Regions from separate parts of the Homo sapiens genome. Here region 2 is linked to region 1. A link means that fine-mapping ties the variant in region 1 to the expression of a gene that starts in the linked region. Tissue or cell type: whole blood. Region 1 holds a variant in brackets; the other region holds the start of a gene. All regions are shown on one strand. Distances are from middle to middle.

Region 1 (5,735 bases):
AGAGATAGAGAAGTAACCAAAAGAAGAAAGTTTTTAAAGGTTCAGAGGAAAGAATGAGGTCAGTTGCAATTTTTTTTAAGTAAGATGTTGGAAAGAATAAATGACATGATGAAAAGGAAACTGACATGATTCCTATCATGAATTTGAAAGCTATGCAAGGGTGGAAAGGTGGGTGAGAAGCTGTGGACTGGTGAGAAGACAGAGAAGTCAGAACTGAGAGCATAGCAGAGAACTGTACTTCTGTTGTGCTACATATGTCATCTTCATCTTTTGTATTGTGCCTTAAATTTTCAAAAGCGCATTTGCGTTTCAAATCTGCTGTGATAGTCAGCATTCCTGTGGCATGCAGAGGTGAAGAGCATGAGGCCTTGCCCTTCAGTCAAGGTGGGGATACTGGCACACATAGGATACTACATACTCCCTAGGTGTCTGTGAGGATGGTGGAGGGGATTTTCTCCATGCCGGGAGGCTTCCTGGAGCAGGTGCTGCCTCTCGTGACTCTTGAAAGATGCTTGTGAATAAAGCATACTGGGAGCTGAGCTGCTGTTTAGTAATTAAAAATCCTTTCCATTGTTTAGAGCTCAGCACCTTTGTGCATTCATATTACGCATTCATTTTCGTATCATTGTTGAATTTCTCACTTCTGCTACTGCAATGTATGTCTACAGCTGACAAGTCTTCCTTGGGAGCCCTACGTAGCTCTTTTTTTTCTTTTCTTTCTTTTTTTTTTTTTTTTTTTTGAGACGGAATCTTGCTCTGTCACCCAGGCTGGAGTGCAGTGGCGCAATCTCGGCTCACTGTAAGCTCCACCTCCCGGGTTCACGCCATTCTCCTGCCTCAGCCTCTTGAGTAGCTGGGACTACAGGTGCCCACCACCACGCCTGGCTACTTTTTTTTGTATTTTTATTAGAGACGGGGTTTCACTGTGTTAGCCAGGATAGTCTTGATCTCCTGACCTTGTGATCTGCCCGCCTTGGCCTCGTAGCTCTTTTTGACCCTCAGGGACAGTCACTGAATTATGTCTTGGGAGCCCATGCTTCTGAGGCAGGCTTAGGGAGCAGGAGAGCATACAGGTGTAGCAGCCTTTCCAGCTGATCCCCATGCCCTGCTGCACCTGGAGGGCTGGAACAAGCTATTCTCATATTGGGGAAAAGGGCTGATGGGACCTCAGTCATGTGGCAGAGAATCTGAAAGCCAGAAGCTTGGCAGGTCTGTCTCGGGGTGGGGTGACGGAGAGACATTTCCCTAGAATTCAGCTGCTGGGAGCAGAAAGACAGAGCAGGGGCAAGTGCTGGGTTTCTGAGGCCCGCAGTCCTGAGCATGGCCTCAGGCAGTCTGTTCTATGACAGAACCTGAAGAAAGGCCCAGGCATTTGCATCTATGTGTGCAGTTCTACTTGTCCTAAAGGCACTTCTCACACTGGGAGCCTGCCTGTCTGTACCTGTCTAGAAATCAGCCTGGCTGGGACGCACACCAATAGGAGGGCATCCTCACCTTTCCCACCCATGAGTCGGGACTGTTGCCTGCTGTGCAGCAAAGGCACCAGGAACACGGAGTCAGACACTTAGGGTCTACCCCAGGCTCCACTTCCCACTGCCTATTTGACTCTGGGCAAGTCTTTTACAGCTTTTCAAACTTCTCTCTTTCTTAAAACAAAAAAAAAAAAAAAGGAAAAAAATTTCTTGCCAGGCACAGTGGCTCACGCCTGTAATTCCAGCATTTTGGGAGGCTGAGGTGGGCTAATCACTTGAGGCCAGGAGTTCGAGACCAGCCTGGCCAACATGGTGAAACCCTGTCTCTATTAAAAATACAAAGATTAGCCAGGCATGGTGGCACACGCCTGTAATCCTAGCTACTTGGGAGGCTTAGGCACAAGAGTCACTTGAAACTGGGAGGCAGAGTTGTAGTTAGCCAAGATTGTGCCACTGCACTCCAGCCTGGGCAACAGAGCAAGACTCTGTCTCAAAACACACGTACAAATTTTTTTCTTTTATTTTTTTAAAGACAGGGTCTTAGCTATGTGGCCCAGGCTGGCCTCCAATCCCTGGGCTTAAGCAATCCTCCCACCTCAGTCTCCTGAGTAGCTAGTACTATAGGCACACACCACACACCCAGCCAGACTTCAATTTTCCCAGCCACATCATGGACCAGAAGCCACTTGGTCTGGTTGTGAGGATGACGGAACCTTGCCCGAGGAAATGGGCAATGAACAGGAGCCTGTTTGTTTCTCCTTCCAGCTCCTGACCTGTCTAGCTCCTGACCCTCTCAGTGTCATTCTTGCTCACCCCTGGCCCTGCTCCCTGGATATGCAGACAGGATGGGCTTCTTCCCTTTAGACCTTCACTTTGCTCTTTTGGACTCCTCTTCTGGCCTTGCCTTCCCCTGGTGTCATCTGCTGGCTCCCTGCCTGATACTGCCACACTGGTCATGCTGGCCTCCTGGCCTTTGGTGACACCGCATCAGCAGGCTCCTGCTTCCCTGTCAAGGGATACAAGCCAGCACCGGTCTTTCGCCACAAGGTATGTGTGTAAAGATTGCTTCCTGTACTTGGTGTCCACAGGATTTTAAAGAACTCCTGGCCCACTCGGAACTCTACGCTTGAAACAGAAACATCTTCTCAAAACACCTCTGGTATTGGCCCATTTCTCTATTACTGTTTCTTGTGGTTTCATACTGAGGTTTTTGGTGCATTGCAATTGCCCTGGAGTTTATTTTTAGTAATAAAGACAGAGTTCAATTAATGTCAAAACATGAGGGTAATTGCAGAGGAAGGATTAGTAAGTCTAGGGGAAAATGTGCCCAACTTTTTTTCTTCTGATAACATCTTTCACTGATCATACACCGTCACACCCACAGACACGGAGCTTCCTCCGTGATGTCTGCAATGCACTAGGCCCAGTCGGGGAGCAGTGGCTGCGCCACCACCTGAAAACGAAAGCATTTCTGAGTCTCTTTCAGTCCAGCTCATCTAGCAGCCAGCCACACAGGTGACCACCCACCGTAGCTGTCACTATGGGTGATGATTATCATTATGGTTTTGAGGAAAGGCTGGGCTTTAGAATAGTCAATTCTTATCCTCTCTCCGGGGGGATTTATTCTGTCTCCAGAAGCAGCATTTCACTTTCCTGAACATCAGCTCTTCTCCCCTGGATTGCAGGGTCTAGGTCTT[G/T]TTCTCTGTCTGCTTCCAGCTTTTGGCATTTTGACAGCACATAGGACATGCTTGGAGAACGTTTTCTTGAGTTAACTGAATTCAGGACACTGACTTGGGGCTGGAAAGGCAAAGTGAGGAAGAAAGTATTCCCCTTTCAGAAGCTCCCCAGTCTGCCTTAAGAAACAAAGGCAGCCCTGTCATCTGCCCAGGACTTTACAGTTTATAAAGTGATTTCTCATCCTTTCTCCTTTCTTGTATTGCACAAATATCGAACGAGAACCTGCAGTGTGCCACTGTGCAGGGTGCCTAGAATAAAGGAGAAAAGCCACTGTGCTTTCTCTGAAGGAATCACAGGGAGTGAAGCTAGCTTCATGGATGCCAGAATTTCACAGATGAAGGGACTGGAGGCTTGGAGCAATTGCATTGCTTGAGATCCCCCCTGCTCATGGATGGTGGCTCCCAAATCAGGACATGAGTCTTCTGAATCCCTTAAACCTGCCCTGTGCCTGCCTGTTCTCCCAGCACATTCTCTGTACTCTCTTGTGCTGCTCCTCACCCCCTCTCCAACTGTCTCTCCTTCTCCACCATTGTCCTCTGCCCACTCCTAGTCCCTTCTTTCAGCTCTGTTTCTTCTGAAAATGAGGATCTTTCTCTCTACAGTGCCTCTTGTGGGACGGGTTCTGCTGATGGGGGCTGTGTTTGGGATCTCGCCTGGAAACACGATCTCTCCAACTTTCCCTGGGAGCAGAGCCTTGGGTCTCACTGAACCCACCTCCCCAGCACCTTGTGTGGTGACTGGCAGGAGGTAGCCATTCCCTCCTGTCCTCTCTGCCCTTGTCCACTTTCCTGTTATGAGTCAGTTGCTGAGATAGGCTATGAGGAGTTAACAGAGTGGATAAAAAAGAGCTTTGTCCTTCTTTAAAGCCTTCAAAATATACAGATGTATTAGTCAGGGCTTTCCAGAGAAACAGGACCAATAGAACATGAAGATAGATGCGTATCCATGTCTATATCAATATCTACCTTGATATTTATATCTATATCTAGGAGATTTATTTATTATAAGGTATTGGCTCATGCAATTATGGACCCAGAGGGGTCCTGTGATTTGCCACCTGCAGGCTGGAGACCTAGGAAACAGCTGTCGTGTCACAAAGGGCAGAGGGCTGGAGAACCTGTAGTGTAGATTCCAGTCCAGATTCGAAGGCCTGAGGACCAGGAATGCCAAGGGCAGGAGAAGATCGATGTCCCAGAACAAGCAATCAGGCAGAGATGAAATTCAACCTTCCTGTGCCTTTCTGTTCTATTCAGGCCTTCAGTGGGTTGAATGAGGCCCAACCCACATTGAAGAGGACCATCTGCTTTACTCAGTCTCCTGGTTGAAGTGATAATCTCATCTGGACATACTCAGAAATGCTGTTTAACCAGCTCTCTGGAAATCCTGTGGCCCAGTCAAGTTGACACACAAAATTAACCATCACACTGCAGAGACACAGTCTATCCCAATACCTGTATTTACTGGGTAACGTGCATCTCAGCTCACCAGGCTGGTTTGATTGACTTGGCCCAAAGCTGCCCTTTGAGTGTTGAGCCCCAGCTGACCCCTTTGATCCTTCACAGCCCCATCATTAAAACAAGGACCCTGAATCAAGTGACTGTAAGAGCCACTCTTGTCCTGTTCTGTCTGTATCCTGGCTTTGAGTGTTTATCTAAGCTAAGCCCAATTGACTGTTGTCATTCTTTGTCTCTTCCTTGCTCAGACATCAGTTAGGTATTTATTGAACACTCCTGTGTTCACAGCATCCGGCTCCTGGGATTAGAGACAGCTCTTGACTCCTGGTTTTGCTCTTTGAAACCTATTGGACTGCTTTTCTTTTAAGATACACCCCCCACATTATAGGAATCTATCCATTTCTTTGTTCATTTCTTTAATTGTGCATTATATCAGTCCGTCAGTCAGTTTTCCTCCTGAAATATGCTAAGTATTGAGAATTATAATAGATTCTATTAAGCACCGCTAATAAAGTACTATCCTTATAGTAGTAGTAGTGTTTGCGGTGATGGTCGTGTTAGTACTAGTAGTAATCAAGATGGCCATGAAGAGACTGCTTTTAATCTACCAGTAATCATGGTAAAAATAGTAATAGCTCAAATGTATTATTCATGGTGTTTCAAGCACTTTACATTATATGATGTCATTTACTCTTCACAACCTGCCAGGAAATGGAAATGATTACGTAATATACTCCAGTTTGCAAATGAAGGAATCTTCCTGCGGAACGTATGTGAAGCGCATATTGGTGCTCTGGGCTTTTGCATAATTTCAAATGTCCTTTTTTTTTTTAAACTTAAGGCTAATGTTTAGAAGCTTTTGCTAATGAGAGGACCATTTGCTAAATCGGTATAAGTGCTACACATTTGGGTATCTCCATCCCAACATACCTCTTATTGCCATTCCCCAAAGCAGACACCTTCTCCTCCCTCCCTCAAGGACCTCTGAGCTTGCACTCCAATTCCTCTCCCACACTCACCTTTCTCCTTTCTGTTCCTCTTGGGATCCAGGTTTATTTGAGGAGATAGGAAA
Region 2 (4,867 bases), 200 kb before region 1:
GAAAAGTGACTTTTAAAAAATGAAAGCAGGCCTGGGCACGGTGGCTCACGCCTGTAATCCCAGCACTTTGGGAAGCTGAAGCGGGTGGATCACGAGGTTAGGAGATCGAGACCATCCTGGCCAACATGGTGAAACCCCGTCTCTATTAAAATACAAAAAATTAGCAGGGCATGGTGGCGCACGCCTGTAGTCCCAGCTACATGGGAGGCTGAGGCAGGGGAATCGCTTAAACCCAGGAGGTGGAGGTTGCAGTGAGCCGAGATTGAGCTGCTGCATTCAAGCCCGGTAACACAGCAAGACTCCATTTAAAAACAAACAAACAAACAAACAAACAAACAAACAAAACAAAACAAAAGCAGATATACCAAAATGTTTATTTTGGATGGTAGGAATATTAAAATATTATTTTTTCTTTGTATTTTTACTGAAAAAATGTTTTAATTCTAAAAAAGAAATTAATAAAAAGGAAAATGTGAATCTAAGATTAGTGCATGAGAGCTGGAGACCCAGAGAGGGCAAACAGCATCAAGGTCAAAGTTGAGTGAGTCCTGGGTGAAAGTGTCTTTTCAGCCAGGGGAGATTTTCCATGCAGAAGGGACTGGGCATCAACTGTCAGGACATGGACAGAGACGTCTGCCATTAGAAGCTGGTCCTCTCATAGCCCACCAGCATCCCCCAGGAGGACACTGGCTTCCTCAAGGTCACAGCCTTTGGTTTCTGGAAAAAATGATTAAGCAGTGAAAGGATTAAGGTCTCACAGCTCCTATCGCATGATGTATAGATGCAGAGGTTTCTCATCATCTTCTTTTTATATTTTAAAAGATGGATGACAACTAGATGCCAACTGCAGCTCAGGCACCTGCCCAGTCCCTCTCAGAGCCGGGCACAAAACAGACACCTGTCTAGCCCCTCACAGAGAGCCAGGCACAAAACAGACACCTGTCCAGCCCCTCACAGAGAGCCAGGCACAAAGCGGAGACTTGTCCAGCTCCTGGCAAGGAGCCAGGCACAAAAGAGATGCCCATGAGTGTAAATGAATCTGTGAAACAGGCAGAACAGGAGCATCAACTGAGTAATTGTTTTTTCTTTTTCAAATAAGAACATTTGCGTTGAGAAGCCGCCACGGGAAGAGATGTGATGAAACACTACACAGAAAGAGGGAGGAGCCTCCGGGTAGGTTGGAGTGAGTAGGATGTAGGGTAGCCGGCAGGGGAGAAGAGGGGCAACCTTCTGTTCCGTAATATTGATACCACCCATTTGTGTGTCCAATTTTTGCTGGTTTGTGACGTCCTTCTAGGGTCCATGAGTAACCCCCACCCCATTGCCTAGCTGGGTGCCTGACTCCCCTTAAGTGCTCAGTAGACGTTGAACTGGACGGGCGCTGGCGTGGTGGCTCACGCCTGTAATCCCAGCAATTTGGGAGGCCGAAGCGAGTGGATCATCTCAGGTTCGGAGTTCGAGACCAGCCTGGCCAACATGGTGAAACCTTGTCTCTGCTAAAATTACAAAAATTAGCTGGGCGTGGTGGCGCGCGCCTGTGATCCCAGCTACTCCGGAGGCTGAGGCAGGAGAATCGCTTGAACCAGGCAGGCGGAGGTTGCAGTGAGCCATGATCGGGCCACTGCACTCCAGCCTGGGTGACAGAGTGAAACTTCATCTCTAAATAAATAAATAAATAAATAAATAAATAAATAAATAAAATAAACTTTGAACTGAACAGGGGCAGCTCTTACATCTGTCCAGTCTCGGGTTTATGCAGATAGAACAAGATAACCACATCCCACATGGGAGGCCAGTGTCCACTTGCTCCTTTGGAGGAACTACTGGGCATTTAAGGGACTCGTTGAACACACTCTGTAGGTCAACTCTGCCCGGAGTGGAGGGAGCTGCGCAGACCGCTGGCCCTCTGCACGGGTTTGCAACTCGGCTTCTGGAAACAGCGGGAGACGTCGAAGGAGGCGAGAAGGTGCGCGCGCCCTTCTCACCAGGCCGGCGGATGCTGGGTGGTACCCAAAGAGGCGCTCAGATCACTGGAGCTGGAGCTCAGTCGGCGGTCTTCTGCGGGAACTGCACCTATCCCGGAGCATCTCTGGCCCTCCTATTTCACTGAACTCGCCTTCCTCAGCAGGAAAGTGGGAAGACCGCTTGCTTCCAGGACGGTGTGGGGAAGGGTAAGAGGGCTCAGGGAAAGACCGTGGAAAGCTCGGCGCACAAGCGAGCTGGCATCACCGGGGATTCCCTCCGGCCCGGTGGGACTCCGGCGCGCTTGTAGCGAGGACCCCCAGCCCAGGGCAGAGCCTACCCTCCGCTCCCCCAGTCTGGGCCCTTGGCGGCCGCAGTCGCCCAAGCCCGCCCCGCCTCCGCGCGCGGCCCTCTCCGGCTCAGTGCCCTGCGCTGCCGGGAAGCAGGCTGAGGGGCGCACCGGGCGGCGGGCGGGGACCTGGGGAAGGCCGGGAGCGCCGGGACCGAGGACGCACGCGGCGGGCCGGGCCGCGCGCGCCTCCCCCCTCCCCCGAGGCCCGAGCGCGAGCCGCCGTGACGTCACGGGCAACCCGCCAGCCCCGCGCTCCTCCGGGCAGAGCGCGTGTGGCGGCCGAGCACATGGGCCCGCGGGCCGGGCGGGCTCGGGGCGGCCGGGACGAGGAGGGGCGACGACGAGCTGCGAGCAAAGATGTGCCCCGGGACCCCCGGCACCTTCCAGTGGATTTCCTTGCGGAAAGGATGTTGGCGGTCCCTGTGACCTGTGGAGACACGGCCAGATCTGCCCTCCAGTAAGTTCCAATTTTGTCCCCTGCGTTTCTGGAAACTCTCGAGACTTGGCCCTGAGTAGGGATGCGCTGTGAGTAGTCGGACGGAGGAAAGGGGCTTTCGGAATCCAATATGTGTGTGCTAGGCGTGCACTGTCCTCATCACCAGCCTCAAGACTGGTGGCGAGTTTGGGCGTTTGGGGAGGGTGAGGGGAGGGGGATGACACCGAATGGCCGGTGCATAGAGGCAATTCTGGATTTATGAACTTGATCAAAGGCATATTAACTAATTTCTAAAAATAGACCCCTCTGCAGTCAGAACAGATTTGGAGCCATGATGTGGTTTGGAGGCCCCTCTGGCGAAACTAGAGGTCTGTGAATGTGTGATCCTCCCTCCATCCTTTGACCATCACTCCCCGCTTCCTCTCACACCCCCTCAGGGCTGGGCGAAGGTGATTTCCAAAAACTCAGTAACTCCGTGTTTTGAGACTTTCTCAGTTTTTGCATCGCATGTGAGGGTTTGTTGGGTGCTCCTAAACCCTCATCATGGTCATTCTTCTTGGCTGGGCTGTTGATTTAATTAGGTTTGCCTTCTCTTGCTAACGTGCTCTTATTTATGCCAGTGTTTGTGGTTCTGGGTGTAGACTTTCAGGAAGCACAGCCATGAAGCTGCATGCGTCTGTGTGTGGATGCCTCATGCCTTTTCCTGGTGGTTTGCAGGCATGGAAGATTCTTCTGTTCATCTAAGCTCCTGACTTTAGGCCCTTCTAGAACATTAGAGAGGAGAAGAAATCACGTGCAAGGATTTAGGGACAAGAGGATGAGGTTTTGGTGTTTCCTTTCTGGTATTAGGTTTTCCAGAGAGAGGCTGTTAGCCTGTCTCTCGCCCACTCCACCACTGTGAATCCTGGCTACTGGGGCTAGTTCCTTGCTAGGAAAAAAAAACTCTAGAGAAATGTGTTTGTGTGTGGTGGGTGGGCGGGGGCCCTGAGGATGCAGGGACTGTGTCTGCTGTGTTGTCTGTTATAAGATGTTTCAGACCTATTTTGCATACTGGCAGCGACAAGTTGAGACTTGTTCAACTTGACACAGTCCTGTGGTCATAGCGAATCTTTCTAAAGCTCTGATCAGTCAAGAAGGGGGTTGTATCAATCCTCAGAACCCTGAGTGGAACTTTCTACAGGATTTATTAGGAGAAAAACCTTCCCGGAAGCTGCAGAAGGACAAATACAGAATCCGTGTCTGGGAGAAACCTCGTGGCCTGGTCTCCATTATTTGAGATGAGTTACATCTTGGAGGTGAGGACGTGCCTCGTGGTCTAAAGCTTCGGCACAAGGGCCCAACTGGAATTCCACTTACGGGTATGACTGTGGGGTATATGCTGTACCCATTGAATTCCCAGAGGGATTTGTTAAGTGGTTGTGTTGCTGTTTTGCCTGGTTAAGAGTGGCTTATTCTTGTTGCCTCATCTATCTTGAGTGCAGAATTTTTGCATAAACGGCTTCTCTTGAAAAATAGAAGTCCGTTTTTGTTTTGTTTTGTTTTTTTTCTGATTAACTTTCCTTTTCCTCTGTCTTAAACACCTTCCCCCGCCCCTCGCCACCTCCATGCTGTGTTTCTGTGGCTGGAGCTTTTCTGCACTGGAAAGGAGGAGTTCTCCCCTCTGTTCTGACATATCTGATCCCCACTAGTTTATATGATTGCTGGTCTGAAAACCTGGTGAATTCTCACTGCCCACATCAAATCAATTCCCTGTTCTTTAGTTGTTTTTTTTTTCCGCCTCCTGAGCGGTAGGCAGGCACTCTGGCTGGATTCTGGAGCCTGTGTTTGCCATGCCTGGGCCTTCTGCCTGCCCAAGATGGACACGTTTCTCTGGCAGCTTTGTCAAGAGATCTCCTGGACTATAAGACACCCTGTTCTTTCCTCCTGTTTGTGTGAGTGGCCCTGCATTTGGGCAGAGTATTGGCAGAATATCTGGGGGAAGTGGAAGACTTTGGATAGTTGCCGGTCCAGGTCGTCTGGAGAGGCAGTGGCAGGCCTGCTGATGGCTGCCCCTTTGCTATTTGTTTTATATCAGGTGGCCCTTCTGGATGTGTGGCCTTTTTATTTTGCATTTCCTT

What was found. PIP is the estimated chance that this variant, and not a neighbour inherited with it, causes the effect.
Region 2: it holds the start of PVT1, and the variant in region 1 is fine-mapped to the expression of PVT1 in whole blood (INTERVAL, PIP above 0.99).

The regions. Positions count from the first base shown.
Region 1 is chr8:127,990,421-127,996,155 of GRCh38, forward strand. The region is part of intron 4 of PVT1 (Pvt1 oncogene); the gene reads left to right. Among named protein-coding and RNA genes, the nearest start is that of MIR1206, 16 kb to the right of the region's middle. RefSeq lists enhancers at 1,875-2,376, 2,342-2,671, 2,377-2,876. The variant G/T (reference allele first, on the strand shown) is at 3,170.
Region 2 is chr8:127,791,964-127,796,830 of GRCh38, forward strand. PVT1 (Pvt1 oncogene) reads left to right here and starts at 2,561. Exons shown (of 9, transcript NR_190187.1): 1 at 2,561-2,771. It overlaps MIR1204 (microRNA 1204), which reads left to right and starts at 3,999; the gene lies at 3,999-4,065. RefSeq lists enhancers at 971-1,541, 2,684-3,253, 3,254-3,825, 3,547-3,596, 3,697-4,036 and silencers at 2,267-2,316, 2,337-2,396, 2,407-2,566.